Linked DNA regions of Homo sapiens. The protein of the gene in region 3 purifies or fractionates together with the protein of the main gene of each other region. This does not show direct contact. Each region holds a gene or a part of one and is shown on either strand. Other genes may lie near its edges.

Region 1 (7,911 bases), on a different chromosome or scaffold from region 3:
AACAGGGATGAACTACAACAAACACAACTATAGGACTACTGTGAAGCTGCAACAGTCCCAACTTAGACATCAACAATAATTCACATTAAATGGTTCTTCATTTTATTTCTAGATTTAAGAAAAACTAAACTTATTTAACAAAATTGGTCTGGAAATTAGCTTGATGAGATTGATTTTTTAATGAAAAAGCTTATTTGTGAATGTACATGCCATTGTTATGAAAAAGAAGATGCTAATAAGATTCACCTAATCACTTAGAAAATGAATAGCTTCACCTGCCTTAGAAACTGCAAGAAAAATTAAATTTTTAAAAAAAAATTTGGACAACACATCTCTAAATTATTTTTTAAAGTCTCAAAAAAATCTAAAAAAACATAAAACACCCAAGATCATTCTAACAGGCTATACTGGTGAAAACCAGAATAAACTCCTCTTTGAATGGGATTCTATTTCAAATGACTTCTCCAAACTCAAGAAAAATCACCTATGAGAAAACCTTAATAAACACTCTAAGCTAAACTCCCCAGGGAGTTACAGGATGAAAAGGACTTGGACATTTTAGAGCCCTGTTAACCTGTGGGAAAGTGCTATAGTATGACTTCGTTTATATGCCTGGTAGAGAAGAGAGCCCCCAAAGTTGTCACTTTCCTGCCCTGTGAAGCTTTAACGGATTTGTTTAGAGCTTAGCGGTCTTATTTCAGCTTTCTGCTCCCTGACTCGATAAGCCTCAGTTCATCATATCCTTTTGAAACATTCCTTATTACTTTGCTGGTGTCCTCCACTCACTGTCTGTTTGCATGGGAGGTTTGTTTTGATGATGCAAGACTGTGCACTGACCTCAAGCCTGCGTCTTCATAATGTGGATGATTCACAATGGGCCGAAGTGCAGAGAGCTTAACACTTGCCATCGTGGGCATGGCACCCGCAAACACTGCATCTGGAAGGCAAGAGGAATGTCTCAGGAAGACACTCAGTGAAGGCGAGAAGGTGTCTCCTTCAAGTGTAAATCAATTATTTCACAGGTAACAGAGCGGAAGCCCAGCAGGTTCATGACTTCAAGATTCAATGGCAGAACTAGCATGAAGTCAGATGGCTGATAAAGTAGCAGTTGGCAGCCAGGCCTGGGTAAACTATTTTCCTTGGAAAACAGAGCTTCATCATCTCATCATTAAAGATTTCTTTCTTTCTTTAAAGAAAAAATCTTAGAAATCTTTCCTGAATCTAAAAAAGAAGTATCAAATGGACTAGGAAAGCTTTACAGTAACAAGGAGTTCTGGAAGATGATTTAGTATTCAATCATTTGATACTCAGATGACAACAAAGTCTCCCTTTCCACACATGAATAAAATGTCACATTCCATGAGTTTATTTCAAGAAGGAATGTGAAGGACTAATATTAAAAATTCATTAAGAAAATAAGCACAGGAAAAATTATTTTAAATGTGGCATTTATGACTGTGAATAAATTTTGAAAAAATTAAAATCTATAAAAAATGGCAGAATAAATTACTAAGAACATATGTATAACATTTCCCCTGCAAACCATTTAAACAGGATTGATATCTCCTTTGTTTTAGATATTCTAAAAGCAACATTGCATAGAAAGAGTGAGATCAGTGGAAGTAACTAGGGTTTAAGAGTTTGCAGTGGTATATAAAATTGTGGGAAAAACAGCTAAATAATATGACTTTTTTTTTCTTTTTTTTTTTTTTACCTGGTTTAGTACTATATTTGATCCATTCTATAAGTTCTTCTTGGGGCAAATTGCTGAACTCCCCTACAATATTCCACTGGGTTTGCAGATTTGCTGAACCTTGTATTGACATTGCTGCTAATATAGCAAACACAATAGCACCAGGATGTACTTTGCAAAAGAGCCATCCAAATAGCTGAAACCAAATTAAGAATACATTGGTAATTGTTAGTATAAGTAGTATGCATCTGTTATGCAAAACTTCTTCCCAGAGAAGAATAAGGCCTCTGCTAGAGTCCCAAATAAAGGATTAATTATCCTAAAGAAAAAGCCCCAAAATAATAATCTTTGGGATCAAAAGGATTCTACCATCAGCCTCATATAAGTGGAACACAATGTAGGAAGCTCTTTTCTCAACCTGCTTTCACTACTCCCAGATTCAAGTAAAGCCACAACCAATTTACAAGGCCCAGTACAAAACAAAAATGTGGGGTCTCTTGTTAAAAAATTAAGACGTTCAAAACAGCAGCAGCAAACATTCAATCAAGTTCAGGGTCCTGAATGTGAGGTCCTGTGTGACCAGCAGGAACCCCACACTTGGAAAACCTGCCCTGGGTGACACTTTCTATTAGGTTGGTGCAAAAGTAATTGCGGGTTTTGCTATTTTTAACGACAAAATCCACAATTACTTTTGCACCAACCTATATCATCAGTCATGCTGTGGGATAAGACTCAAGATTAAAGGCTTCCAACCAGCCTCCTTTCCTGTGCCAGCCTGAAGGGGTCAGAAAGGTAGAAAGTAGTGCCTTTCTAACATAATACAACATACTGATTGGGAACCTCAAGGCTGGCTAATTTTTTCCACATCCAAATAGTCCACACTCCATAACAACACTTTGTTCTCTTGATCTTTCTCCACATGTCTACAGAGCTAGATTTCAAGTTTCTTGAGGGCTTATAAACACTGGCTTTTGACTTTTCTGTCTACTACTCTCTCCTCCATCCCTAGAGTGCGCAGTGTAGGTGCTTAGTGACTATCTGCTACGTCTAAGGGAGGTGCTGCTGTTGTACCTAGGCTGGTTGACTGATGGAAAGGTGACACTATGGAGAAGCATAAATCTGTGAATACAGAACAAGGAGGCAGCTATCCAGGAAAAATAAGCAGCAAACCACCAAGGAAGGCTTAAACTAAATTTTAAAAAGCACAAGTCAAGAATGTGCACACAAATTGCACCAACTGAAAAAAAAATAAGTTTGATACTAAAAAAAGAACATATAATTTTCAAGCACTTATAACCTGAAATTATTAGATTTCTTTGTGATATGAATGTCAAAACAAAAAAAGTTATTATTTGTACAATTAAGCTCTGCTTTCTATCAGCACCTGCAGTAATCACTCATGAACTCAGTCTGTACTAAATCGGTATTAGTTGTACACCAACAACTATTTTAAATCTTTAGAAAGATAGAAAATGATCAGCTTTGGCCCTTACCCTTTAAGAAAGATAAGTACAAAACCATGAAGAGCTTTAACTATAATCACTTAAAAGACTTTGTAATTCATTATTTTAGGGCCACTCAATAATAAAGGCTAAAATTATCATAGTAGCTATACTCCAACATAACATGTTACCTGTCTTGAGCAGATCAGTGATGCCATAACACACATGTGTGGTGTCAAGAAGAGTTTTAGTCTCATAATTAAAATACCAAGGGCTGTATATGCTAACAATTGCAATGCATGGTAAACCAGCTGAAAGAAAGAAGAAAATGTTTTTTACTCCTACTGTTTGTGAAGTTTAAGAATACTAAACTGGCAATATGCAGAAAGGGGTACGTTCTCCTTAGTAACAAAAAATACTACTAAGGTTTCTGAAACTTCGAAAACAATTCTTAAAATTCACTTTCAAACTGTTCCATTTTAGTGGAAGGCTAAAATTATAAAGTCATTAAGGCAAGTGTTTCTGTGATTCTCAGAGTCAAACCTGTGGTTAATAAAGCCCACATTTTTTAATCAACCTTGATGCTACCATCAGACCAAGAAAAGACAGTGGTAAAAGAAATGACTGCTGCCTCAAGATCTGAGGGCTCCACCTTGGAACTGCCCTCAAAACCAGACTGGACAACTAGGAGATGGGAGCAGTAACCAATCACATCTCTGAGGCCTCAAGCAAGGTGAGCAGAGAGGAAAGTGATTTCCAATCATGCAATAGACACCTCATACATATGTCTAAATGGGCTCCAGAAATCAACTGCCATTAGTGTAAAGATGATCAGAGCAGAACATATGAGTTTCCTAGTTAATTTTAACAAATGAATAGTCAGTGAATCTGCATATAGCATTCTCATAAAAACACATAACAGGCTATTTTCAAGATGATTGCTGACAATTGCCAACAAAGTTAGAAACTGGAACTAGAAAGGAAAGTCCAAATGCATGCAACTTTAAGATAAGTAAAATTATAGTCATATTAAGTCTTTACCTCTCCATGATCAAACTGGTGTTTTCTGGAACAGAAAAAAATATATTGCCATCAATTCATTATTGAAGCACTTACGTCATATATTTGCATTTTCATCTTGCAAACAGGAGTTTTACAACTTCTATAACATTCTCTCAGGACACACACAGGCAAATCAAAATAACTAAAAGTCACATGCCAAAACTGGTGCTATACTATTTTAAGAAAATTTATGAAGAATGACAATGTTGTATTATATCCTATTTGACTACATGGGTATTTATTAGGACAACAAAGGCACACGGTGGTGTCCCAGCTCCCTCACTGGTGATACCCCAGCAAAGCATGGAATGAAAAAAACCTTTGAGATTTTCACTAGGCAACCAAGTAGAGATAACAAATACGTGGTTATATGTGTAAATCTGAGTTCAAGGGAGAAGTCTGGGTCAGAGACAGAAATGTGTGAGTTGACAACACACACCTTCTCTTTCTTAAGCACTGATATGTTCCCAAGACCTAGAGTAATACCTGACACTTAGAGCTCAACATTTTTAATGAATGAACAAGTGTATCAATAAACTGTTAATCCAGGTAGCATATAATCTAATTTGAGAATCTAGCCTCAAAAAGACTGATATATTAGCAAACTCAGGACACATAAGGGGCTAGTGAAGGAGATGAAACAGTTCTTTATTCTTCTTTCACACCAAGTAAAAACTATCAGTTACCATTTGTTGAGTACTTACAATGTTAATATGCTTAGTACATTCCATTAACTCTAATCCTACAACCATTTATTACCCCAATTTACAGCCAAGGAAAGGAATCACAGAGCTAGTAAGTGGCAGCCAGGACTATATTCTGACTGACTTCAGAGCCAATATACTTTTTACTACATCATGCTGTCTCTATCCCACTTTACTTCCTGGGTCTTTGAGTAAAGAGAATATTGGCATTCATGTCTTTGATAGTTAAAATTTATGTCCTACTCTTCTCCTTTTTACACTGGCTTTGGTAGCTATGCAAAATAAAATGTCAACATGCCACTCCTCTTCCAAAAAAGAGCTCTGATCCTATTTGAACTGACAACTCCATGAAGCTCAATGGTTTCCTATAATTACTTCTATAGGTGAGTTATTACTCTTGAAGGGACAGCTTTGTTTCTGTGAGAAGTTCCACCTTCCTCTTCCAGAGTTGCATACTACAGCTGAAACTTTGTAGCTTCTTCCTGAGCTCTTCAAAAATAATTTCACCTCAAATGAAAAATTTCGGCATTGTAAACCAGAACGTTTTTCTTTCCCCCTTAGCCCTCAACTCAAATGTTACAGGTATAAACATATACCTGTATATGTTACAGTAAATTGTTTCTAAATGAGAACAAGGATTCTCTCAGGAGTATGTGCAATAATTTATCATTATGTTGGCAGAGACTTGGAGGTGAGGGAATAATACAAGGGTGTGTATATTCAAATTATAAAATAAAATATAGGGCCAGGCGCAGTGGCTCATGCCTATAATCCCAGCACTTTGGGAGGCTAAGGCAGGCAGATCACGAGTTCATGAGTTCAAGACCAGCCTGGCCAATATGGTGAAACCCCGTCTCTACTAAAAATACAAAAATTAGCTGGGCGTGGTGGTGGTCGCCTGTAGTCTTAGCTATTCAGGAGGCTGAGGCAGACGAATCGCCTGAACCCGGGAGGCGGAGGTTGCAGTGAGCCGAGATCGTGCCACTGCACTCCTCCAGCCTGGGTGACAGAGTGAGGCTCTGTCTCAAAAAAAAAAAAAAAAAAAGAAAAATTAAAAAAAAGAAAATATAGATACATACACATTCGACAATCCTTCTCCCCCCAAAATCCCACAAAAGAATAAAAGTAGAGTTAAAACTACCTTCACTCCATCCTCTAATCCCACTCTTAATAATTACAGGATTTATCTTTCCGGATCATTTCTATGCACAAACACATAAAAATCTCTAAATTTTAAAGAGAAGTATAATTATCCTATACACACACACACTGGCAATTTTAAAAATTCAATAATGTATACTGGACCTATTTCCAGAAAGATAGCCTAACATTCCACTCTATGTATCATAGTAGATATTTTGGATGTTTCCATTTCTCACATAACACACAATACTACAAAAGGCATCTCTCCCCATCATCTCTGTATTTCTGTGAGCATCTCTAGAGGGTACACTTGCACTGGTGGAACCTGCAGGGCTAAAGGACAGGCCCACTATATGTTTTACTGTGTATTGCCAAACTTCCCTCCCATCTACTACCTCCCACTCTTGCAAGCATTGGATATACTATTAATTTTTAGAAATATAAGAAGTGAAAAGGTCTTCACTTTAACCTGAATGGCTTTACCATAGGATCAAGACTACCTTTTCATGTTCATTAGTCATATGTAAATACTCATTCAACTACTATCCTTTACTATCTTGCAGGCACTGTATATAAACTGTTGAACAAAAATGATCGCTCCCTTCAGGAGATACGGGTCACACATCAACATTTAAGTACAAAGGGTGACAAATGGTAAGAGAGTAAGACAAAGGGTGTGATGGTGGAAAATACCAAGCATGCTATAGGCCTCTCTAACTCTCAGGTTATAAACAAACCCTCTTGGTTAATTTTGGGTTTTTTTTTTCCTATACATAATTCTCTGGTTCATCTGAAATTTATTTTCTGTAAAAAGTGAGGTATGAATCCAGTTTTATATTTCCCTGCTCATTTCCAAAAAGGCAGTCCACTGGTCCTAAAACCACTCACGTAATAATTTACTTTCCCTGCTGAAATGAAGTACAAAACTGTGTCCTTTGAGTGTAGATTATGTGCAGGGCTACTGTCAGACTGTACTGGATAACATCTGAAGGATGAATAAGTGATGTGCTGTGTTCTGCACAGATAGGAAATAAGAAGAAATGCCAGGAAGGGAAATGACCACAATAAAAACATCAATTATCAAATATTAGGTACACAACATGTAAGTATACAATTAATACACTGTAAATATCTATTTAATAAATGAACAGAGGAGGTAATAAAATTCTTAATAGCATATTTACCTTACATGTGTCTGTTGTTTAGCTAAGACACCCCACATATCACTAATAATCTGTAAATAGATTTTGAAACACTTTAGAAAAGCTGTGTTGGGAAAAATGATATTTTAAATAAAGTATCTTCTAAACTGTAAAATAACTTTTAATGAAAATATAAGTATAGAGATAACTCAGAAAATAATAATCACAACAACATAATCTTATATTTGTATAGTATCTGATCAAAGCTAATATTCAACAACCCTGTTGGGTAGATTATATCATCCTCGTTTTGTAAATGAGCAACAGGTTCATATGGATTAAATGATTGCCCTGTAGGTAGACAACTACTAAGAAGCACTGCAGTCTTGAAACCAGATCTTCTGGCTTCAAATTCACATTCAGCGCTGCTTCCACCATGCCAACGTTGTTGGCAACACCTCTTCTTAACAGTGCACTCAGAAAACTGGAGAGCTGGCTCAGAGGTTGATAATCACAGCTGGAAGCATTCAAAACACAGTCACTGTGCTTTCATATTCAGCAATAATGAGGAGGTCATCTAATCTAAAATCGTATCTCCAGTACAAATATTCTCTACAACACTGATGACAGGCTGTAATCCAGCCCTTAGAATCCACCAGCTGCTGCTTGAATCTATAACACTTTCCTTATCAGTCGAGATCAGTTCTGGTCAAAAGTCATACCTC
Region 2 (7,911 bases), on a different chromosome or scaffold from region 3:
TCTCGAGTAGCTGGGATTACAGGCAGGCACTGCCATGCCTGACTAATTTTTATATTTTTAGTAGAGACTGGGCTTCACCGTATTGGCCAGGCTGGTCTCCAACTCCTGACCTCAAGTGATTCGCCTGCCTCAGCCTCCAAAAGTGCTGGGATTACAGGCGTGAGCCACCCCAGGCCTGGAAGTGAAATTTCCTTCTCAAAAAGGGTGAGGCTTGAGTATGATGATAAACTAAAGAGAAGGAGATAGTGGGATGGAAGAAGTAATAGGGAAGAAAGGAATTAACCAAAAGGGACAAAGTCCCAAGAGGAGCTTGGACTGACAGCCTATGTCTCTTGTCTAAGATTAGGAGGAAAGATGGCCAGAAAATTTGTGGAGGTGGTGGGAATCTGACTCCAAAAGTGAAAGGGTATAGAGAATTTTTGAGGAGCAGAGCAAGCATTACAATAGCTACTATGGGGAATGAATCAAGTTAAAAGACTGCCAAAAAAAGCCAAGGACTCAGTTGGAATTGAAACTCAAACATTCACAGCAGTGCCAATCTGTGCTGATTTCCAACCTTCCACCCTCCACCAGCAGTGCTCAACATGGAGTGACTAGAGATTAGGAACATCCAGAATAGAAATGAAAAAGGACAAGGGGAACAGGATTTTGAGAGTACTAGTGAGAGGGCTGTAGGGATCTGATCAGAAGTTCAAGTTGAGTGGACAAAGGTAAAGAAAGGTAGTATACAGAGATGGAGCGGTGATCAAAGGCAGGCTTCTCAACAGAACAGAATTGGGAAAATAGGGTAGAAAAAGTCTCTAAGCCAAAAACAGAAAAGGGTGAGAGAGGTGAAAGGAGTGCCAGAATTGTGCCAGCAAAGTGGAAGAGAATATAGGGGGTTCAAGAATTCAAGAGAAGTTCAGGGTTGGGTGGTGGCAAACTCCAAGGCCTGGCTCTGGCATGGACGATAAAGAAAAATGGAGGTGACAGATACTGGAAGCCAGGCTAGAGGGTACACTGTCCACATTGACAGGCAGTGTAATCACCTGGAAGACTGGAGGGCACTGATACAGACTGTGAATCAAGTGGCAAAGTCCTCACTGAAGATGATTGTTGGTAGGTGAGAGCTAAAGAATGGTGAAAAGCCTTGACAGAAAAAGGATTTTTTGCATAAGGATGGTACCAATTTGCTGTTGTAAAATTTGTCCCAAGAGAGATAATCTAAGAAGACACAAACTCTGCTTTGGAAGATAATAATATATATATTTCTTTAAAATTGTGGTTTCAGCCAGGCACAATGGCTCACACCTGTAATCCCAGGACTTTGGGAGGCTGAGGCGGGTGGATCACCTGAGGTCAGGAGTTCAAGATCAGCCTGGCCAACGTGGCAAAACCCCATCTCTACTAAAAATACAAAAATTAGCTGGGTGTGGTGGTGCACACCTGTAATCCCAGCTACCCAGGAGGCTGAGGCAGGGGAATCACTTGAACCCAGGAGGCAGAGGTTGCACTGAGCCGAGATCGAGCCACTGCACCACAGCCTGGGCCACAGAGCAAGACTCTGCCTCAAAAAAAAAAAAAAAAAAAAAAAAAAAAAAAATGTGGTTTCTAGGAACCTTAAAACAAACTAGGAGTAATTAGAAACAGAATTAACTGTTTTTTTATTGTTATTTTAAGTAGAAGTAAAAATGCCCAACTAAGAATAAAAGTTACTTAGCTGCAAACAGATACCTGAGCCCAGAAAACAGGTTACACAACACCATGAACACACTATTAAGACATGTGAAGAGCAAAGGTCAAGAACAAGGAAACATACACACGTCAGCAGATTTATTTATTGCACCAATACCAAACAGGAAAAGTCTCTCTGCAGATTAGAAAAGTGATCTACTCAAGTAACATGAAAACCAGTGCAAAGGATGTAATGGAACAGAATCTCAGATTACAAGTAACTTCTTAAAGCCTTGTTCCATTAAACTACATGGATGGCTCATTTAAATGAAATATCCTGGATAGATAAATCCATAGAGTAAGTATATTAGTGGTTGTCAGACTGAAGGAAGGAAAAATGGGGAATGATTGCTAATGGGTACTGGGTTTCTTCTTGGGATGATCACATGTTCTGGAATTAGATAGTGGTGATGTTTACACAACAATGTGACTATACTAAAAACACTTAATGTACAATTTTAAAAGGTCGATTTTATGGTATATCAACTATATCTCAAAAAAGCTATTATAGAAAAATTTTAAAAGCAAATTTTAAAAAGCTTATATGGCATTTAATATTTAAAACTGATTTACATGAGTAATTACACAAAACCATTTACTTTTTTTTTTGAGACAGAGTCTCGCCTGTCGCCCAGGATGGAGTGCACTGGCGCGATCTCCTCTCACTGTAAGCTCCACCTCCCAGGTTCACGCCATTCTCCTGCCTCAGCCTCCCGAGTAGCTGGGACTACAGGAGCCTGCCACCACGCCTGGCTAATTTTTTATATTTTTAGTAGCGACGGGGTTTCACCATGTTAGCCAGGATGGTCTCGATCTCCTGACCTCGTAATCCGCCCTCCTTGGCCTCCCAAAGTGTTGGGATTACAGGCGTGAGCCACCGCGCCCCGCCACTTTTTATTTTTTTGACAGAGTCTCCCTCTCACCCAGGGAGCGCCGTCTCTGCTCACTGCAACCTCAATCTCGGGGACTCAAGCAATCCTCCCACCTCAACCTCCTGAGTACCTGGGGGCTACAGGCATAGGCCACTATGCCTGGCTCATTTACTTTTTAAAACCGGCCGGGCGTGGTGGCTCACGCCTGTAATCCCAGCACTTTGGGAGGCCGAGGCGGGCGGATCACGAGGTCAGGAGATCGAGACCATCCTGACTAACACGGTGAAACCCCGTCTCTACCAAAAATACAGAAAAATTAGCCGGGCGTGGTAGTGGACGCCTGTAGTCCCAGCTGCTCGGGAGGCTGAGGCAGGAGAATGGCGTGAAACCAGGAGGCAGAGCTTGCAGTGAGCCGAGATTGCGCCACTGCACTCCAGCCTGGGCGACAGAGCGAGACTCCATCCCAAAAAATAAATAAATAAATAAATAAATAAATAAATAAATAAATAAAACCACACATTAAGGGCCGGGAGCAGTGGCTCACGCCTGTAATCCCAGCACTTTGGGAGGCCGAGGCGGGCAGATCACCTGAGTTCGGGAGTTCGAGACCAGCCTGACCAACATGGAGAAACCCCATCTCTACTAAAAATACAAAATTAGCCGGGCATGGTGGTGCATGCCTATAATCCCAGCTACTCAGGAGGCTGAGGCAGGAGAATCGCTCAAACCTGGGAGGCAGAGGTTGCAGTGAGCCGAGATCGTGCCACTGCACTGCACTCCAGCCGGGGTGACAGAGCAAGACTCCGTCTCAAAAAAAAAAGAAAAAAAATACATATTTAGTTTGTGACCAGCCTTGGCAACGTGGAAAAACCCCATTTCTATAAAAAATACAAAAATTAGCCAGATGTGATAGCATGCACTTGGTGACAGTGAGACCCTGCCTCAAAAAAATAAAATAAAAATAAAAAATACACATTAGTTCTCAGGGGTCCTGTAAAAAAAAAAAATACACATAAGATGACAAAATACAAATACCCAAAAAGTACTATTGGGAGAAAATAAGGGACCTAATAGTCTAAAGAGGCAAATATGACATCAGAGTATGATTGTAGAATCAATGCACTAATAACTTTGGGATGCAAAGCATGGTAATGCTATGGTGAAATGGGTGTAGTAACTGTCCTAGAATACAAATATCCAGGCTGAGCACAGTGGCTCATGTCTGTAATCCCTGCAGTTTGGGAGGCGAAGGCAGGAGGATCACCTGAGACCAGGAGTTAAAGACCAGCCTGAGCAACATAACAAGATCCCATCTCTAAAAAAAAAATTTTTTTTTTTTGAGACTAAGTCTCACTCTGTCGCCCAGGCTGGAGTGCAGTGGCACAATCTTGGCTCACTGCAACCTCCACCTCCTGGGTTCAAGCAATTCTCTGCCTCAGCCTCCCAAGTAGCAGGGATTACAGGCACCCACCACCAAGCCCAGCTAATTTTTTTGTATTTCTAGTAGGGACAGGGTTTCACCATCTTAGCCAGGCTGGTCTTGAACTCCTGACCTCGAGATCCACTCGCCTCGGTGTCCCAAAGTGCTGGGATTACAGATGTGAGCCACCATGCCCGGTACAAAAAATTTTTTAAATTACCTGGGTATGGTAGCAAGAAACTGTAGTCCCAGCTACTCAGGAGGCTGAGGCTGGAGGATTGCTTGAGCCCAAGAATTCAAGCAGTGAGCTATGATCACACCACTGCATTCCAACCTGGGCAACATAGTGAGACCCTGTCTTTAAAAAAAAAAAAAAAAGAAGGATGAACTGGGCATGATGGCTCATACCTGTAATCCCAGCACTTTGGGAGGCCAAGGTGGGGGGATCACTTGAACCCAGGAGTTTCAGACCAACCTGGGAAACATGGGAAGTCCCCATCTCTACAAAAAAAATACAAAAATAGGCCAGGTGCAGTGGCTCATGCCTGTAATCCCAGCACTTTGGGAGGCCGAGGTGGGGGGATCACTTGAACCCAGGAGTTTGAGACCAGACTGGGCAACATGGGAAGACCCCGTCTCTACAAAAGAAAAAATACAAAAATAGGCCAGGCACGGTGGCTCACCCCTGTAATCCCAGCACTTTGGGAGGCCGAGGCGGGCAGATCACGAGGTCAGGAGTTCAAGACCAGCCTGACTAACATGGTAAAACACCTTCTCTACTAAAAATACAAAAATTAGCTGGGCATGGTGGCGTGCACCTGTAATCCCAGCTACTCAGGAGGCTGAGGCAGGAGAATCGCTTGAACCTGGGAGGCAGAGGTTGCAGTGAGCCAAGATCGCGCCACTGCACTCCAGCCTGGGCGACAGAGCAAGACTCCATCTCAAAAAAACAAACAAACAAACAAACAAACAAAAAAAAACAATTAGCTGGGTGTGGTGGTAGGCACCTGTAGTTCCATCTACTCAGGAAGCTGAGGTATGAGAATTGCTTGAACCCGGGAGACGGAGGTTGCAGTGAGCCAAGATCGTGGCACTGCACTCCAGCCTAGGCAACAGGGCAACATTCTGTCTCAAAAAAAAAAAAAAGAAAAAAAAGAAAAAGAAAACGAAGGATAAAACCATGACAAATATAAATAGTAGAAAATTTTTAAGAGTGGCCAAGGTGAGGGCTGGGCACAGTGGCTCATATCTGTAATCTCAGCACTTTAGGAGGCCAAGGCAGGCAGATCACTTGAGGTCAGGAGTTCGAGACCAGCCTGGCCAACATAGTGAAACCCCGAGTTGGGATGAGTATTTAAAGTGAGCGAGCGTAGAAATACTATGCTCAGCCAAGTGAGTACTTAACGAAATGAGTGTAGAAGGCTGGGGGAGGTGGCTCACGCCTGTAATCCCAGCACTTTGGGAGGCTGAGGGGGGCGGATCACCTGAGGTTGGGAGTTCGAGACCAGCCTGACCAAAAAGGAAAAATCTTGTTTCTACTAAAAATACAAGATTAGCTGAGTGTGGTGGTGTATGCCTGTAATCCCAGCTACTCGGGAGGCTGAGGCAGGAGAATCGCTTGAACCCAGGAGGCAGAGGTTGCAGTGAGCTGGAGATCACGCCATTGCACTCCAGCCTGGGCAACAAGAGCGAAACTCTATCTCAAAAAAAAAAAAAAAAAAAAAAGTAAGTGTAGAAATACACCTATAGCAGGACACAGTGGCTCACGCCTGTAATCCAAGCACTTTAGGAGGCCAAGCCGGACAGATCACTTGAGTTCGGGAGTTCAAGACCAGCCTGGCCAACATGGTGAAACCCCATCTCTACTAAAAATACAAAAATCAGCAGGATGTGGTGGTGCATGCCTGTAATCCTAGCTACTTGAGAGGCTGAGGCAGGAGAATCACTTGAACCCTGGAGGTGGAGGTTGCAGTCAGCCTGGAGCCACTGCACTCCAGCCTGGGCGATAGAGCGAGACTCCGTCTCAAAAAAAAAAAAAAAGAAAAAAGAAAAGAAATACTAATATAGCATTCCAACTTGTAAGCTTCAAATGATGTGGCAATGATTTTCATTTCCTTTTCTATTTCTTTTTTTTTCTTTTTTTTTTTTTTTTTTTTTTTTTTTTAGCAACAATGTCTTTTTCTTTCACCCAGGCTGGAGTGCAGTGGCATGATCACAGGTCACTGTAGTCTTGACCTGGCTTCAAGCAAACCCCCCATCTCAGCAGCGAGTAGCTGGGACTACTGGCCTGCTAGCCAGGGCCCTGCACCCAGCAAATTTTTTTTTTTTTAATGTAGAGACTGGGTCTTGCTATGTTGCCCAGGCTGATTTTCATTTCTGTTAGACTCATCTTTTTTCTTAATTCTTGCTTGAATTTCTATTCCAGTACAATAATGCAAGTCAAAGGAAGGTTAAAATATACCTTATTTAAACTGCTAATCTTTGTAATTACTGACAGTGCATCTCTGACATTTCTAAAATGAAGACACCTTCCTTTTCTACAAACTCAGAAAATGCCAATGAACTATCTTAACATTTTTTAAGTTCAAAACATTTTGGTGACAGACACAAGTCTACTGAAAGGTATAATAGTAGATAATCATGTTGCTTTGCTATACTGGCACCACCATTTATTTGTCATCTGTAAAATGACAGCTAGTGCCTTACTCATAGTAGTCAATAAATGTTCCTTTTCTTTCCTTCTTTCATTGTTTCAATGTGACCTACTCTTCACTGATACTTTAACACGGAATATAGGACGTCTTCAAAGACACTTAGTAATATAGAGGCTGATGTAAGAACACACAAATAAATAATACTATGTTTAATTTTTCAAGTTAAAAGGACTTCTTCACCTCATTTTGTCCACTGTACCAAACACCTTAAATTGCTGACGAATTTGGTTCTTTCAGCTAACAATGTCAAAGTTTTAGCTGTTTTAAAACAAATCTTCTTGGAAAAGCTTCAACACCTTAAAAATCAGTACAGTGGCCCACTGAGGTGGCTCATGCCTTTAATCCCAGCACTTTGGGAGGCCGAGGCGAGCAGATCACCTGAGGTCAGGAGTTGGAGACCAGACTGGCCAACATAGAGAAATCCCATCTCTACTAAAAATAGAAAAGTTAGACCGGATGCGGTGGCTCACGCCTATAATCCCAGCACTTTGGGAGGCCGAGGCAGGCGGATCACGAGGTCAGGAGATAAGAGACCATCCTGGCTAACACGGTGAAACCCCATCTCTACTAAAAAATACAAAAAAATTAGCGGTGCGTGGTGGCGGGCACCTGTAGTCCCAGCTACTCGGGAGGCTGAGGCAGGAGAATGGCGTGAACCCGGGAGGCGGAGCTTGCAGTAAGCCGAGATCGTGCCACTTCACTCCAGCCTGGGCGACAAGAGGGAAACTCTGTCTCAAAACAACAACAAAAATTTAAAAAATTAAAACAAAAATCAGTACAGTTTTCTCAACAGTGTATCTTTTTTCCACTTAACTGGGACTTTGGGCTACGGAAAACGTTAACCAGTACTAGTAAGGAAGCTCAATTTGCCTCTACACTAATTGGGAGCGCTGAAAACACCAGGCCGTGTCACAGCCTCTTCAGCTGTCAGTGAGACCCGCCACCTTCACCTTACCAGGTAAGGAAACTGAGGCCCAGGGGAAGGAAGGGGCTTGCCTGCAGCCACCTCGTTCTTTCCTGAAAAGACCAAGCGTCTGACAGCAGCAGTGTTCTGCCTCGAGGGCTATCAGACGGCCCCGCGGAGCATGGATGAGACCTGTCCTCCCTCGCGCCGCCTAACCCCGGGGTGAAAAACAGGCGCCCCTTCACGCAGTGCCACAGGCAGGGACTCAGAGTAGGTCTTGGCCCTAAA
Region 3 (8,635 bases):
TACACATTGTTTCCTCTTTATGGAAAGCTCCACCCTTTGTCAACCGCTGGAACACATTAGTGATCCTTTAGAACCAACTCAGACACCAGATCCACTGGAAGACTTCTGCCTCGGGTGGGATTCCCACGCCTCCACGTGTGCAGACGCACTGGAGCATGCCTTTACAACATGCTTCCACGGGAACTTGCAAACGTGCATTTACGCACCCCTTCCCAACACGGTTATGAGCTTTTTGGGGGTCCGCACCATCCTTTCTTCTTGTCCCCTGGATCAATTGAAATATCACTCATTGCCATTTAAATTTGTGTTCTTTGCTACAGACTTGAACGCAGGCAGATAGTCACCGTCTTCAGGACAGTGACTTTGTTTTGCTGCAAGTCCATTAAGTTACCCATCACCTTGACGTCCTTCTGTGGAGGTGCTGTCCCGCCAGGCACTCACTGTGACTGCTCTCTTTACACCGTGAGTTCCATAGCAGCTGCATGCCAAGATTACTGTAAAGTCCTGGCTGGGGTAACAGGCAAGAAAGAATTATCCGGATGCTCCATGGCTACAGCAAATGGAACCTTTCCAAAAATGGTGGATGACAGAGTCCCTCAGCCTAAGGAGAGGACACTATTGCCCGAGACTCTCTTGCAAAACAGAAAAATTCTCAGATAACGTACTTCCCTTGACCTTGAGTGACCCAGGTTTATAGGCAGAGGGAGGAAAACAATCTGAATTACCACCTGCTAATAAAAATACTGAATCTGGCTAGGCACAGTGACTTACACCTGTAATCCCAGCACTTTGGGAGGCCAAGGCAGGGGGACCACCTGAGGTCAGGAGTTCAAGAACAGCCTGACTAATATAGTGAAACCCCATCTCTACTAAAAATACAAAAAAATTAGCCAGGCGTGGTGGCATGCTCCTATAGTCCCAGCTACTCGGGATGCTGAGACAGGAGAATTGCTTGAATCCTGGAGGCAGAGGTTGCAGTGAGCCGATGCACTCCAGCCTGGGCGACAGACCAAGATTCCATCTCAAAAATAAAATAAAAATTAAAATTAAAATACTGAATCTATGTCTACTTGATTAAACCAAAATTTCTTCTCCAAGGGTTCCTTCAAATTTCACGAGGGCATCTAATGCTCAAAACCTCCTCTTATCCAGCCCATTCTGGGACTAAGATTTTCTGGTGAATTCCAGGTCCAGCAGCACCATCCCTACCGCCATCCACTACTGCTGCGCTGTAAAAAGAGCCTTCCTACAAGAGCTGACTGCACCGCCCTCCTTGTGTCCTATTCTCCATGAACTCCAGCCCAAGGCGCCTCCCACCACTCTCTGACCCATCTCTCACCAAGGACCTTGAGACCTCCCGAGTGGCTCAATTCAACCACCAGCTCTCAGGCTTCCCGCATATATCCCACCAAGCAGCACTTCCAGCAGCTGAGCACGCCCTCCGTCCTAAGCACCTTCCTCCCTTGGCTTCCGGATGTTCTCTTGGTTTTCTCCCCTTTACTGGCTGTTCTTTAGGATGCCTCTATCTCCTCAACCTTTGAACAGCGTGCTCAACCCCTGGCCTCGTCCCACGTTAGTTCACATACACGAAGCTCCCAGGACAGAGCCCGGTGCCCATCCATGCTTCCTAAGCACACGCTGGCAGCATCGTCACTGGTGATCCCATCTAATCTCATGGGTTTAAATCCTCCCATGTTCTAATGGCTTCTAAACGAACTCCAAACCTGACCTCTCCCCTGAATGCCAAACTCTTACAAAGATCTACTCACTTGACATTTCTGTTTGGATGTCTGACAGGCATCTCAAATTTAACATACTGAAAACCAACTTCCTGGTTAATGACACCCCAAACCTGCCCCTTCCACATTTTCTGTGTCTGTTCACGGCAGCTACATCCCTCCAGCTGCTCTGGCCAAGAACTCCTGGTTCACCTTTGATTCCTTTCTTTCTCACACATCCCAGTCACCCCACTAGTGAGTCCATAAGCCAACCGCCCCTCACCACCGCCCGCCAACCTGGTCCAAATGACCCCACATCTCACTTGGATGACTGCAGAAGCTCCCCTCCCCCAGCACAACCCCAGCTTCTGTGCCTGCCACCTCACTCCCCCTTTCTTCACTCCAGCGAGACTCTGTCTCAAAAAACAAAAACAAAAACAAAACATAATATTCAGAATGATGATTCAGGGATAAACAGACCATCTCTAAGACATTCCCAGTCAACAGTGGTCAAAATTTTTAAATGTGAGTGCTTAAAAGAATAACTTTCACTTGAGTTTGATGTTCTTTTATGAAGAATATGTCTCTCCTCCAAAATGCTAGACAGTTATGAAGCTATTAAAGGTTTCTTTTCCTCCTTTCTTCCTAAAGAAACTAAAAGTAGTGTTATTGGCCGGGTGCAGTGGCTCACACCTGTAATCCCAGCACTTTGGGAAGTCAAGGCGGGTGAATCACCTGAGGTCAGGAGTTCAAGACCAGCCTGGCCAACATGGTGAAACCCTGTTTCTGCTAAAAATACAAAAATTAGCTGGCCGTGGTGGCGCACATCTGTAGTATGCAGGCGTTATCTGAAAATAATGAATTGGACCCAAGGGCTCCCTTCCGCCTCGAATAATCTGTGATTCTAGGATTCATTTATTCAAGAAATATTTATGGTGCAGAAAATACATACAGTCGGCTGGGTGAGGTGGCTCATGCCTATAATCCCAGCACTTTCGGAGACCAAGGTGGGCGGGTCACCTGAGGTCAGGAGTTTGAAACCAGCCTGGCCATCATGGCAAAACCCCGTCTCTTCTAAAAATACAAAAATTGGGCGTGGTGGCAGGCACCTGTAATCCCAGATACTCAGAAGGCTGAGGCAAGAGAATCGCTTGAACCTGGGAGGCACAGGTTGCAGTGAGCCGGGATCACACCACTGGACTCTAGCCTGGGCAACAGAGTGAAACTCCGTTTCAAAAAAAAAAAAAAGAAAGAAAGAAAAAAGATACACACAGTTCACACCCAGAAGGGCAACTGCAGCTGGCTGACCTCCTCAACAATTCCTGAAACCATCTCCTCTGCAAGCCTCTCACCGCCACTGCCTTGGTTCAGGACTCGGCCACCTGGATCATTGCAGACTCCCCCACCCACTCACACAGGTGGTCATGTTATCCCTAGTCTGACTCTGTCCAGTTCATCCTCCCTACAGTTGTCGGTGTGACGTTCCTAAAACACAAACTGTCACAATCCTTACCTTTCAGATACCCAGAACTTTCATAGTAACCCAAACTCGCTAACATGGAATACCCTTGGCATGGCGCACTGCAGCCTGGCATACTCTCCTAAGACCTCTCTGACCCATGCCCTGGGCACCAGCTGCCCCAGCCACCAGTGACATTAGGCATGAGGTTCTCTCTGCACAGAACTTGCTGCCTGGATCACGTCCACAGACCCTTCCAGATTCAGGACAACTTCCAAATTCATCCCTTCGGGAATGCCTACCTGCCTCCCTTGGGATTAGCCGCTTTCTCCTGTGGCCTTTTGATACGGATCTCTCATCGCCCTGCTTTCTACTTTCCCCCATCGAGCTGCAGACTTCTTTAAGGCAAGGGCTATGCTGTGTGGCCTCATCCCTAGCACCCACAGCGGGACCGGTGCTCAAAGGATAGCTGGAAAATGACTTAAAGAGCGAGCAGTCACCATGATGAATAATATCAGCAAATCAGAGGGCACAACATTCACTCTTGCTATTTGCCTCTCATTTTCACCTCCGAGTTTCCAAAGCACTTGAAAATGAACACTAAAATTAACTGCCTCCTTGCTATGTGTGAATTCCTCCCAAATTTCTCAGCTATTTGTCCAGGCAGTGTTATATAACTGCAGGCTGATGTGGTATTAAAGGAATCTTGTTATATAATTCAGCCCTACTCACTGCAGCTCGCTTTTCCTCTTTAAAGACCGTAAGGGAGAGGAGCAGGGAACCAGGGCCAGAGGGAGAGAGCTCTGTGCACTGTCGCCTGGGGCTGTCCCTCTCCCCCACCCTCCCTGGGGCCTTTTCAGGATTCCTTGGTGCGGTAGCCACCCAGGAAGGCATCTTCCTCGGCTCCCAGCGGCTGCTAAGCAAAGCCTCCCGGGCCTCAGGGAGGAGGACGAGGCCCTTGGCATCCTCCCCGAGCCCGGGAGCGGATGTTAAAGATCTTGTTCATTCAGCTCTGCTGGAGCGAAGACGGTTGCCAAACCAGAGTGCTTGTTTTATTGTTTTTTTAGAACAGCAGGACTGTTATTACGAGTATTCAGGGAGAGAGAATAGGAAGCGCAAAAGAGATTCCGCAGCATCCTAAAAATATCAGTAACATGAGAATTGCCTGCCCAGCAAGGCAAGGATCTGGACCGGTGGGCGCGGCAGGGCGCTTCTGAGCCACCGTCTGGCTGCCGTGCCACCACCGCCGGCGCCCCGCTCCAGGGCGGCCCGGGAAGGCCAGGCGGGGCCGCGGGCCCGAGGGGAGCCGGGAGCCCGGCGCGCTCCGCCTAGGGGTGTCCTTCCTCGGCCGCTCCCAGCGCGATCGCCCCCACGCCTGGACACAGACCCGGAGACGGGGCAGAGAGGGAGGAAACCTGGGGGCCCAGGGGCGGGGAGGCCGGGGCAGCGGGGAGCACGCAAGTCGGAGGCTGGAAGGGGGCGCAGCGCGACCGGCGCCCAGGGCTGGGGCGGGGACGCGCGGCCGGTGAGTGGGGTCCCCGCCGTCCCCCGAGGCCCTGCGGCTCCCACACTCACCGCGCTCCCCGCGACCGCGGTGGGTCGGAGCCGGGCTGGGCGGCGCGGGGCGGGCTCCGGGGGGCCCCAGGCCGCCGACTCGGCCAGCAGCTCGTCCAGCAGGCGCAGCGTCTCGTCCCTGCCGTCGGGGGGCGCCACGGGGCTGGGGTCGCGGCCGGGCGCCTCCTCCGCGGCTGCCCCCGGGACCTCGGCCGCCGCCACCGGCACCCGCCGGCGGGTCCCGCCCTCCAGGGCTGCCGCTCCGGGCCCCGCGGGGAGGCTCTCGGGGCTGCGCCGCCGCCTCAGAGTCCGGCTGCTCCGGCTGCTGCCGCTGCCCATGGCGCGCCCGCCGCCTCCCGGACCGCCGAGGGGGCCCCCATGAGGGGGCGCGGCCGGGGGCGGGGACGCTAGGGGGTGCGGCCGGGGCGGGCTGCAGGGGGAGGCGCGGGGCGAGGTCCGGGAAGCGACCGCGGCCAGGGGCTAGGGTTCCCGGGCGGGGGTCGCGGCCGGAGGACGGGGGTGCGAGCCGGAGCCTGGGGAGGGGCGGGCGAGGCAGGGCTGCATAGGCGTCCCGAGGGGGCGCACACCGGCCCTAGGGAGGGGCGGGCCCGAGACCCCGGCGAGGAGCACCGGGTGCGGGCGCGGCCTCCCCTCCCGGGTCTCCCCCTACAGTCCCCCCACTCCCGCCCACGGGTCCCCTCGCTCCCCGCCGTCGGGTCAGCCCTGTCCCGGCCTTCTGGAATTGCTGAACCCTGCGGGGGGCCCGGCTGAGTTTGTTCATTTATGGAAACGCTCCCCAGACGACGCTCGCCGGGCCCGTGGGAGGCCGCGGGAGCTTGGGGGGACTTCCCAAAGCCTGAGCCCCCTAGCGATGCGCGGGGTGGGCGGGGGAAAGACCCTGAGGGCTGCGCGCGCTGCGTTCGCGAGGTCCGGCCGTCAGTGCGCCCCGACCTTTCAGTGTCCGCCAGGCCTGAGACGCCCCGGGAGGGAAGGGGCGATCCTCCGGGCACCAACAGCCCCCTCCGGCCTTCTCCTTCCCTCTGTTGCCCCAGCGGAGACTGGATGTGTGAAGGTTGAGCCTCATCAAAACCTCCAAATAGTCACTACTTTTGGGAAAGAAAAACTTTGAAAATGAAGGAGAAAGGCAAAGCAACCCCCACCTCGCCCTCCCCCCGCCACAGGAAAGAAGCAAAAGGAAATACCTAGGTGGTGGTCATAAGTCTAGCTTTTGGTCTCGGATTTTTTTTTTTTTTCCCTTAACCGCTTTTCTTTTTAAGTGAACTAACCACAACCCAGACTAGAAAACACTCCAAAGCTGCCGAATTCAAACCCAGCGAGCCTTCCTGTTGGTTGGTTCTGTGTTTTACTTAAATGTGATTACTTCCTTCCCTTGCCCACCTCCTGCAACTTTAAATTCCAGCCTTTCCAAGACAGGGCAATTCAAAAGTCCTGGGTTTAACTCACCTATCTTGACTTGACATTAACTTTTATCCTGATTGATTGGATTCCAGAATAATTGTGAAAATGGAATTTCGGCTAAACTTTCCCAACCACAGACTTGAAATTCTACTATTTTATCACTTCAGGAGTAGACATTAAAAAACATATGCCTAAGAAAATGGAATAAAAATGGGACTCAGATTCACATCCATTTATTTTTATTATTAAGAGAGAACAAGAGGCCGGGCGCGGTGGCTCACGCCCGTAATCCCAGCACTTTGGGAAGCCGAGGCAGGTGGATCACGAGGTCAAGAGACCGAGACCATCCTGGCTAACACGGTGAAACACCGTCTCTACTAAAAATACAAAAAATTAGCCGGGCGTGGTGGCGGGCGCCTGTAGTCCCAGCTACTCAGGAGACTGAGGCAGGAGAATGGCGTGAACCCGGGAGGTGGAGGTTGCAGTGAGCCGAGATCGCGCCACTGCACTCCAGCCTGGGCGACAGAGTGAGGCTCGTCTCAAAAAAAAAAAAAAAAAAAAGAACAAGAAAGTATTTATAATCTAGCTGGACGTGGTGGCTCATGCCTGTAATCCCAACACTTTCAGAGGTTGAGGCGAGCAGATCACTTTAGGTGAGGAGTTTGAGACCAGCCTGGCCAACATGGTGAAACTGTCTCTACTAAAAATACAAAAATTAGCTGGGCATGCTCACTTGAACCCAGGAGGTGGAGGTTGCAGTGAGCCGAGATCACGCCACTGCACTCCAGCCTGGGCAACAGAGCTGGACTCTGTCTCAAAAAAAAAAAAAGAAAGAAAGAAAAGAAAAGAGAGAGAGAAGAGAGGTGAGACAGAGAGGGAAAAGAAAAAGAAGAGAAAAAAAATGAGGCTGTAATCCCAGCACTTTAGGAGGCTGATGCGAGCGGATCACTTCAGGTCAGGAGTTCGAGACCAGCCTGGCCAATAGGATGAAACCCTGTCTCTACTACAAATACAAAAATTAGCCGGGCATGGTGAAGGGCACCTGTAGTCCTAGCTGCTCGGGAGCCTGAGGCAGGAGTCACTTGAACCCGTTAGGCGGAGGTTGCAGTGAGCCGAGATCGCACCACTGTACTCCAGCCTGGGCAACCAAAGAGACTCCGTCTCAAAAAAAAAAAAAAACAAAACAAACAACAACAACAACAAACAATAAAGAAAAAGCAAAAAGAAAAGAAAAAAAATTTTTTAAAGGGAAGTATTTATGATCCCCCCTGCCTTTTTTTTGAGACGGAGTCTCGCTCTGTTGCACAGGCTGTAGTGCAGTGGCCGGATCTCTGCTCACTGCAACCTCCGCCTCCCGGGTTCAAGTGATTCTTCTGCTTCAGGCTCCTGAGCAGCTGGGATTACAGGCACGCACCACCACATCCGGCTAATTTTTGTATTTTTAGTAGAGACAGGGTTTCACCATGTTCGCCAGGCTGGTTTTGAACTCCTGACCTCAGGTAATCCACCTGCCTTGGCCTCCCTAAGTGCTGGGATTACAGGCGTAAGCTACCGTGCCTGGCCTCTCCCCCCCTTTTTTTTGATGTGCCATCTTAACCATCCAGGTGTAGGATGTGGGGCCAAACACAGATGTCATTTGGGTGCGCTAAGTCTACAGATGTGTCTCGTTTGGAAGCTATTGATATAAGTTTTTAAGAAAACAAATCTCATCTTGAAACTCTTTAAACCCCAAAGAACAACAACACTTAGAGGCAAACGAGATTTTTCTTGAGTTCACTCAGTTTAATGATTTAAAGGAAAACATGTTTTGCTTCTGCCTAAATAGAAGCTAGTCATGTGACTCATGTTTAAATACATCCACAGCTCCCTGTGTTCACCTCCCAGGGCAACCAATTTTTCTGGCCACTCTTGATTCCAACACTGTTTCCCAAAACTTGTCATTAGCTCCGCTTCAGCGGGAGGAATGCCAGAGCCAGCATTCTTTCCACTTTGAGAGAACATTTTAAAATCTGCTACATTTGTAGACCTGGCTTCCATCAAATATGCTGAAAACTCAGATTGATTTTATTAGAAGCTTCCCATAATAAGCAAACAACCTAAAAGCTTTCCGCATGACTAATGTCCCTAAGATCGTCTCTAGAATTTTTGTCCGAAAGAGTTAGCAACGTCTCAGGAATATTGGAGAACTGAAATGGGGTGTAATCCTTCTTAAGAAAATATCTGGCAGTCACACCTGCAGCTGAAGGATTCTTTTATGCGGTGATAGTGCTCGTGGGTGCTGGTGATGGTGGGTGGAAGGTGAAGCCCAGTTTGGGAACTCTCTGCTTAACTCTGGGAAAATAGAACTTCCTTTCCTTAAACAAATTAAACCCTGGAAGAGGACTACAGTTGGTGATACTTTTCGGAAGGACTCGGGCGCCCGAACGATGTTTTCCTTGGTTTCAGGAGTAGCCAGGCATCTACTGCAGATGAAGCCAGTTCCTCC
Region 4 (6,986 bases), on a different chromosome or scaffold from region 3:
GCAATGGTGGTGGCTCGGCCTAGAGAGGCGGTAGTGGAACGCAGACCCTGGTGGGGGAATGACATCAAGGGAGGAGACGGGCGGGACCCCAGATTTCTGCCTGTGGGCGATGGAAGTGAGGTTCACTGGCCAGCGGAGCCGGACACAGAACGCGCAAAACGCCGTGTAGGCCTGGAGGAGCCGAAGAGCAGGCGGACCCCCTCCGCGGGGGAACAGTTTCCGCCGGGAGCACAAAGCAACGGACCGGAAGTGGGGGGCGGAAGTGCAGTGGGCTCAGCGCCGACTGCGCGCCTCTGCCCGCGAAAACTCTGAGCTGGCTGACAGCTGGGGACGGGTGGCGGCCCTCGACTGGAGTCGGTTGAGTTCCTGAGGGACCCCGGTTCTGGAAGGTTCGCCGCGGAGACAAGTGAGCAGTGAGTCGCAGTGACCCTACAAGTGGTTCTTTTACCCGAGCGGCTCGTAGGCGCGTTGCGGTTTTTCGAAACTACAGCTCCCGGCAGGCCCCAAGCCGCCCTCGGGGCCGCGGGTCGGCGGATTGGCCGCGCTGCATTTTGGGACCTGTAGTTTCCTGCGCTCGTGGCGCTGGCGCCGCGGCGTTGGCTGAGCCCTTGACCGGGGCTGGAGGGAAGGGCCGACATTCAGTGTGTCCGCGTCTGTTCTGTTAGTCCCAGTTCCCGGGCGGGATTGAGGCTTAGAGAAGTTGAGTGATTTGCTGAGGGCTGCACGGGTTGGCATCCCGGCATGCTCTTTCGCTACTTTGGCTGCATCTGGTTGCCCACCCGGGCGGATGGGGAATGGACTCCAGCCAGCCAGGAGGGCAGAGGGCTGGAGAGGCAGGGCCGGAGGTTCAGACCCTCCGCTCTGACGTTGCGCCTGGTGAGGCCGGGAGGGGTGCCGCTTGCCTCTTCAGCCCTCACGCTCTTGTGGAAGTCGCGGAATTACTGCAGGCGGAACTTGCAGCACTGTGGGCGTCTTTTCCAGAGAAGGACGGAGTTGTGGGGCGGGAGGATAAGGCAAGGCCCAGCCACTTCGCATCTTCGCCCCGCCAGCTCCTCGAGATGGGATATACCAGGGTTGCTCTCCAACCCTCTCCGCAGGAGGGACTGATGGAAACGCCTGGGAAAGTAGCCCGGTACCCACAAAGGCTGTCTACAAACAGAGTCTTACTGTCTTTCCCAGGTCTGTGCCATAGGGATTCTCGAAGAGAACAGCGTTGTGTCCCAGTGCACATGCTCGCATCGCTTACCAGGAGTGCCCGAGACCCTAAGATGTTCGGAGTGGTTTTTTCGCACAGACCCGAATAGCCTGCCCCTCAGCCACGCTCTGTGCCCTTCTGAGAACAGGCTGATATGCCCAAGATAGTCCTGAATGGTGTGACCGTAGACTTCCCTTTCCAGCCCTACAAATGCCAACAGGAGTACATGACCAAGGTCCTGGAATGTCTGCAGCAGGTAGAGCACAGGCCCCGAGGAAAGGACTGCGGGTGGGTGGAGCTTCAGCCAGGACGGGGTGTGCTTCCCTCTCCCGGCCCATTCCAGCCAGGCCCCTCCGGGCCAGAGGCAGCGTCTGTCATAAAAAGGGCTGGTGTTCCAGGTGGGGTCAGAGAGAGGATTGACAAGTAAAAACGATCGTCCTTTGAAGGGGGCCGGCCCCTCCACACCTGTGGGTATTTCTCATCAGGCGGGACGAGAGACTGAGAAAATGAATAAGACACAGAGACAAAGTATAGAGAGAAAAGTGGGCCCAGGGGACCGGCGCTCAGCATACAGAGGACCTGCACCGGCACCAGTCTCTGAGTTTCCTCAGTATTCATTAATTACTATTTTCACTATCTCAGCAAGAGGAATGCGGCAGGACAGCAAGGTGATAGTGGGGAGAAGGTCAGCAAGAAAACGTGAGCAAAGGAATCTGGGTCACAAATAAGTTCAAGGGAAGGTACTATGCCTGGATGTGCACGTAGGCTAGTTTTATGCTTTTCTCCACCCAAACATCTCGGTGGAGTAAAGAGTAACAGAGCAGCATTGCTGCCAATATGTCTCGCCTCCTGCCACAGGGCGGCTTTTCTCCTATCTCAGAATTGAACAAATGTACAATCGGGTTTTATACCGAAACATTCAGTTCCCAGGGGCAGGCAGGAGACAGTGGCCTTCCTCTATCTCGACTGCAAGAGGCTTTCCTCTTTTACTAATCCTCAGCACAGACCCTTCACGGGTGTTGGGCTGGGGGACTGTCAGGTCTTTCCCATCCCACGAGGCCATATTTCAGACTATCACATGGAGAGAAACCTTGGGCAATACCCGGCTTTCCAGGGCAGAGGTCCCTGCGGCTTTCCGCAGTGCATCGTGCCCCTGGTTTATCGAGACTGGAGAATGGCGATGACTTTTACCAAGCATACTGCCTGTAAACATATTGTTAACAAGGCACGTTCTGCACAGCTCTAGATCCCTTAAACCTTGATTCCATACAACACATGTTTCTGTGAGCTCAAGGCTGGGGCAAAGTTACAGATTAACAGCATCTTAGGGCAAAGCAATTGTTCAGGGTACAGGTCAAAATGGAGTGTGTTATGTCTTCCCTTTCTACATAGACACAGTAACAGTCTGATCTCTCTTTTCCCTACAGTCCTTGAGGGTGACAGACTTAGGAGTGCCTTGGGGGCCTCTCTGAGGAGCAGCTGATATTCACGGGTCAGGAGGAAGCATTTCCATTAGAGGGGCAGCCGGTGGCCAGCCTCACTTGGAAGGTCTTTGAACCTCGGGGGTGCAGGGAGGTGGCAGTGGTGCAGGTTGCCTTCTCCTGGGTTCCTTGAGGTGCCCTCTTGTACCCGGCTCACACCCTTCCCCTCCCCGAGTTTCCTGCTCAGGTTCCCGTCTGAGAGCTTGTATGTAGGACGTCAGATAGGACAGCATAAATGTTTGGATCCAGAAACGCAGAACAGTTTCCTATTTTGAGACTTGACACCTAATTAGTCATCTTACTATTTAAGCTGAAAAATAGTGTCGTGTTTTGGGTAACGTTCTGCAAATCGTTTGCTAATGGCGGCTGAGTTGCTTCACGCCCTTTAGGGCAAGAGTGGGACTTGCCTGTGGACTTCTCCGCGGTCCCACAGGGCTCTCGCCACCTGGCAGTGGCCTCTGCATCTGCAAAGAGCTGCCCGCTGGCTGCCGAAGCTTGTCTCAGGGCAGCTTGTGTGGCCTCGCCTCTTCCTGGCTTCCCCGTAACCCTTGCTCCGAACTCCGTTCAGAAGGTGAATGGCATCCTGGAGAGCCCTACGGGTACAGGGAAGACGCTGTGCCTGCTGTGCACCACGCTGGCCTGGCGAGAACACCTCCGAGACGGCATCTCTGCCCGCAAGATTGCCGAGAGGGCGCAAGGAGAGCTTTTCCCGGATCGGGCCTTGTCATCCTGGGGCAACGCTGCTGCTGCTGCTGGAGACCCCATAGGTGACCCTAGTTCCCAGGCCTCTCCTGGCCTCCTGTGGGGATGGTTGGCAAGGGATGGCGCTGAGGGTGGGGTGGGCCCATGGGGACTCCTGCCGTCTCTCAAGCAGAACTCAAGGAGAATTTTTTAGCTGCTGTATAATTTCTCGCCATCGTGGGTGTAAACCTAGGGTTGGGCTTTTTTGCTGAATTAGGGCACGGCAGATGCCCACTTCACCCATTTTTGATAAACCAGTATCTGGGGTGTCAGATTCTTGGCTGTCTGCAGGGCCGAGTTAGCCGAATGCCACCTGCCTTTGATACGTGAGAACGTTGTCTGAGAACCGTGACTTCTGTGCTTGCTTGTGTCTGGTCAGCTTGCTACACGGACATCCCAAAGATTATTTACGCCTCCAGGACCCACTCGCAACTCACACAGGTCATCAACGAGCTTCGGAACACCTCCTACCGGTGGGTCAGACGAGTTTACACCTGTCTCGGGGTCCTCAAGAGAACCAGCTTGGCATGGTGCTGAGTCCACAGCCCCATGCTGTGCTGTGGTGGAGGGTGGTGGTCTTTCTAGACGCTCCCCCGAAGTGTGCAGAGCGCTGGTGCCCAGGGGTGGGGTGCGGCCTGGGCTGCCTCCAATGCCCATTACTTGTGAGGAAGCAGCTTTGCATCTGTGTGCTGACCTTGGGCGGGCGTCCTGAGCTCCTCGCAGGTGCTGTTGTAGCAGCTGTGCAGTAGGTCAGGGCTGGCCCCCAGTGCAGCTTTGCACATGAAGTAGGAGGAGGCCCTGCTGCTTGTCAGAGCCCAGCAGAGTCTTGGTGTTCTGTCGGGTTCCTGTGGCCGGACCAGTGGCAGGGTGCTGTGGAAGCTGTCGAATCTCCTCCCTCTGTCCAGTACCCCCGCTCGTCTTCTAGCTCCCTCCTACGCCCGGGCCACGTTTCAGTTATGCTCACTTCCTCTGACCGCCGAGGCTCCTGCGTGTCTCCATACAGCTCACGCTGCAGGGCCACGCTGTGGGTGTTGGAGACAGCTCCTCCTCGACCCACGGTGCTCTCTCCCACCAGGCCTAAGGTGTGTGTGCTGGGCTCCCGGGAGCAGCTGTGCATCCATCCTGAGGTGAAGAAACAAGAGAGTAACCATCTACAGGTAGGCTCCTGGGCTCCCGCTCCGGCTCAGTGTCCGACAGGCGAGTGCTGCTGGGTGTCCAGAGCCCCAGGCTGCGCTCCCGCTGGGCTAGGGTTTGAAGTTCACTGGGGGACTGCAGGGGAGGACCTGGTGGGGGTGGGGACTGGCTTCGGTCCTTTCTTGGCCGTGCTTCAGCTGCGCACTCTGCCCTTCCTCCCACAGATCCACTTGTGCCGTAAGAAGGTGGCAAGTCGCTCCTGTCATTTCTACAACAACGTAGAAGGTACAAGCAGCTGGGTGGGACCAGGGTCGGGTTGGAGTGTGTGCAGCCTCTCAGGGTGGAGCTCAGTGGTGTCACAGCCTGGTTGTGCTTGCCCGGTGGGGCGGCCAGTGCGGCCATGTACCTGGGCCCTGTCTTCTGACTCGGGGCCACCCATGTTAGACTTCTGTGTGGAAGAGCTCACACAGTGGTCTGAGACAGCCAGCCGGCAAGACTGCCTCTGGCTGGTGCCTGGGGCCTTGGATTTTGGGAAGGCTCCCTCCATTTCCTGATGAGAGGGTCTCCCTGCACCTAACCTGCTGGTGCAAACAGTAGGGGTTTTGCTGAACACCGGCTTTCTCTTCGGGGACTTTGTTGCTTGCCCAGCAGCAGGTGCTCCAGTGACCGGCCCTCATACCATCTTGGGAGGGTGTCCTGGAAGCCGTGTCTGGCCTCCCGCGACCCTGCCCCGTGTGTCTTTTTCCTGTGCTGACCTTGCTGCGGAAAATTATGGCCCTGAGTGTGACTCCAGGCTGAGTCCTGTGGGTCCAACACGGGATGCCTTGGGGCCTCTTCTGGAGACGGGATGTGAGTGACAGGAGCCGGCCGGGGCAGCTTGCCCTGTGACTGCACGTGGCCACAGCCTGTGAGGGCCGGGGGTGCTTCTCCACCCACGTGGCTGCCCCTCGGGTATGTCAAGGGCTTCTGGGGCTCATCACGGGGTCCTAGAGACAGTGGCAGGGTGCACCCCCGTTGGCTGCCCTTACAGTTTCTGTGACCTGAGGGTGGCATCTGTGCAGTCGGCGCGGTCTGTGCTTCTGTGGGATCAGGGTTCCCTCTGTTTCCTGCCTCAGTTGGGGCTCAAGCCTCAGGTGAGGTGGCCCCGGAGCACTCAGAAGGCATCGGCGGTCCTGTGGGCTGCTTTCTGCACTCACGTTTGCTGAGTGCTCAGTGTGCCAGGACTGAGGACCCTGAAGCTGCTCTTGTATTTAGGGCGGCGCTCCCCTGGCAGAGACTGAGCCAGGTGGTCCCGCATGACCCACTACCAGGCGTTTCTGGGCCCTGGCCCTTGGAGGGACAGGGTGGGCGGAACATGGGCCTGCAGGGAGGCTCCCGCTTACTGGAGGCATGTGCTGTGTTGCTGGAGACATCCTCTGTGTTGCTTCTTGTTCGCTGTGGTTTTTGGTCTGGTGGCACCAAGGACCCTCAGTCATCTTGATGTGTGGTTGTCCAGGCCTTTTTGTTGGTCCTAAGAAGGGGCTCTGCCTTTGTGCCCCCAGGTTCCCTGACAGGAGCTGCCGGCTCGTCCCGGTGATGCCTGCAGGACGTGACTCTGGGACGGGGGGTTGGGCAGATGTGCTGATGGAAATTCTCAAGCAGGCGTCATTTCCGAGGTCCTCACCTGGATTTCCAGGACAGGAGTGCCTGCTGGGTGTCCCCAGTCCCATGCAGCGGGGGTCCTTGGGATAGCATGGAACGCTGAGCATGGGCCTGGCCGGCCGTGGTCCTGGACAAGGGCAGTGCCCCGGTGGCTGCTGGGCCTGGGACCTGGTGGGGACGCTGGGCCTGGTACCTGGTGGGGATGCTGGGCCTGGGACCTGGTGGGGAGGCCTCTGACTGCCTCCTGGTGCTGCTTCCGTCTGTGTTAGGCCTCTGGGTATTGGGGCCCCCATCTGTCTCCTCCTCCAGGCCTGTGGACTCAGACCAGGAAGACACAGGCCAGCCCCTGCCTGTCCCCCTTGGCTTGGGCTCTCACTGCCCGACCTGGCGGGAGGTTGCCTAGCCGTGAACCTTCGCACCCTGTCTGCCACCGGACAGGCTGTGAGGGGGTGTCTGCAGCACCTGCACCGGCCTGAGCATCTTCAGAGTGGGCTGCAGCTCCTGGAGGGGTCTGAGAGGAAGGGAGGCAGGTATTTTGGGCGAATGAGGAGACAGCTGGAGAGCTGGCACCCTTCCTGGCCTGCGTCCTGTGAGGACTCTGGTTGGGGACAGCAAGCTTGGGGTCAGCCTGGGGCAGAGCCTCTGGGACGGCCCCGCCCCTCGTGCCCCTTCCCCTCGCAGCTCCTGTCCTCGCCCCGCCCTCAGCTCTCCGCCAGGCAAGGTTTGGCAAGTGCCGCTGTGCGGCAGTGCCTGCTGATTGGCTGGTCTGTTGCTATGGTGCTGCCCAGGGGTGT

The links.
Region 1: the proteins of CYS1 (region 3) and DPY19L1 purify together in Homo sapiens (affinity purification with mass spectrometry; one large-scale study listed by BioGRID and IntAct). This does not show direct contact.
Region 2: the proteins of CYS1 (region 3) and SAR1B purify together in Homo sapiens (affinity purification with mass spectrometry; one large-scale study listed by BioGRID and IntAct). This does not show direct contact.
Region 4: the proteins of CYS1 (region 3) and RTEL1 purify together in Homo sapiens (affinity purification with mass spectrometry; one large-scale study listed by BioGRID and IntAct). This does not show direct contact.

What each region holds. Positions count from the first base shown.
Region 1 is NC_000007.14:34,938,439-34,946,349, forward strand, and holds part of DPY19L1 (protein C-mannosyl-transferase DPY19L1), read right to left. Parts: intron 7,279-7,911; coding exon 7,229-7,278; intron 6,699-7,228; exon of another isoform or gene 6,608-6,698; intron 4,202-6,607; coding exon 4,177-4,201; intron 3,869-4,176; exon of another isoform or gene 3,788-3,868; intron 3,447-3,787; coding exon 3,327-3,446; intron 2,397-3,326; exon of another isoform or gene 2,322-2,396; intron 1,890-2,321; coding exon 1,715-1,889; intron 938-1,714; coding exon 838-937; intron 1-837. UniProt on the Homo sapiens protein: C-mannosyltransferase that mediates the C-mannosylation tryptophan residues on target proteins.
Region 2 is NC_000005.10:134,624,749-134,632,659, forward strand, and holds part of SAR1B (small COPII coat GTPase SAR1B), read right to left. Parts: intron 7,452-7,911; exon of another isoform or gene 7,329-7,451; intron 1-7,328. UniProt on the Homo sapiens protein: Small GTPase that cycles between an active GTP-bound and an inactive GDP-bound state and mainly functions in vesicle-mediated endoplasmic reticulum (ER) to Golgi transport.
Region 3 is NC_000002.12:10,075,154-10,083,788, forward strand, and holds the start of CYS1 (cystin-1), read right to left. Parts: upstream 5,259-8,635; 5' UTR 5,071-5,258; coding exon 4,753-5,070; intron 1-4,752.
Region 4 is NC_000020.11:63,658,054-63,665,039, forward strand, and holds the start of RTEL1 (regulator of telomere elongation helicase 1), read left to right. Parts: upstream 1-258; 5' UTR 259-413; intron 414-1,179; 5' UTR 1,180-1,349; coding exon 1,350-1,451; intron 1,452-3,244; coding exon 3,245-3,443; intron 3,444-3,796; coding exon 3,797-3,890; intron 3,891-4,420; coding exon of another isoform or gene 4,421-4,492; coding exon 4,493-4,574; intron 4,575-4,775; coding exon 4,776-4,836; intron 4,837-6,986. UniProt on the Homo sapiens protein: A probable ATP-dependent DNA helicase implicated in telomere-length regulation, DNA repair and the maintenance of genomic stability. Acts as an anti-recombinase to counteract toxic recombination and limit crossover during meiosis.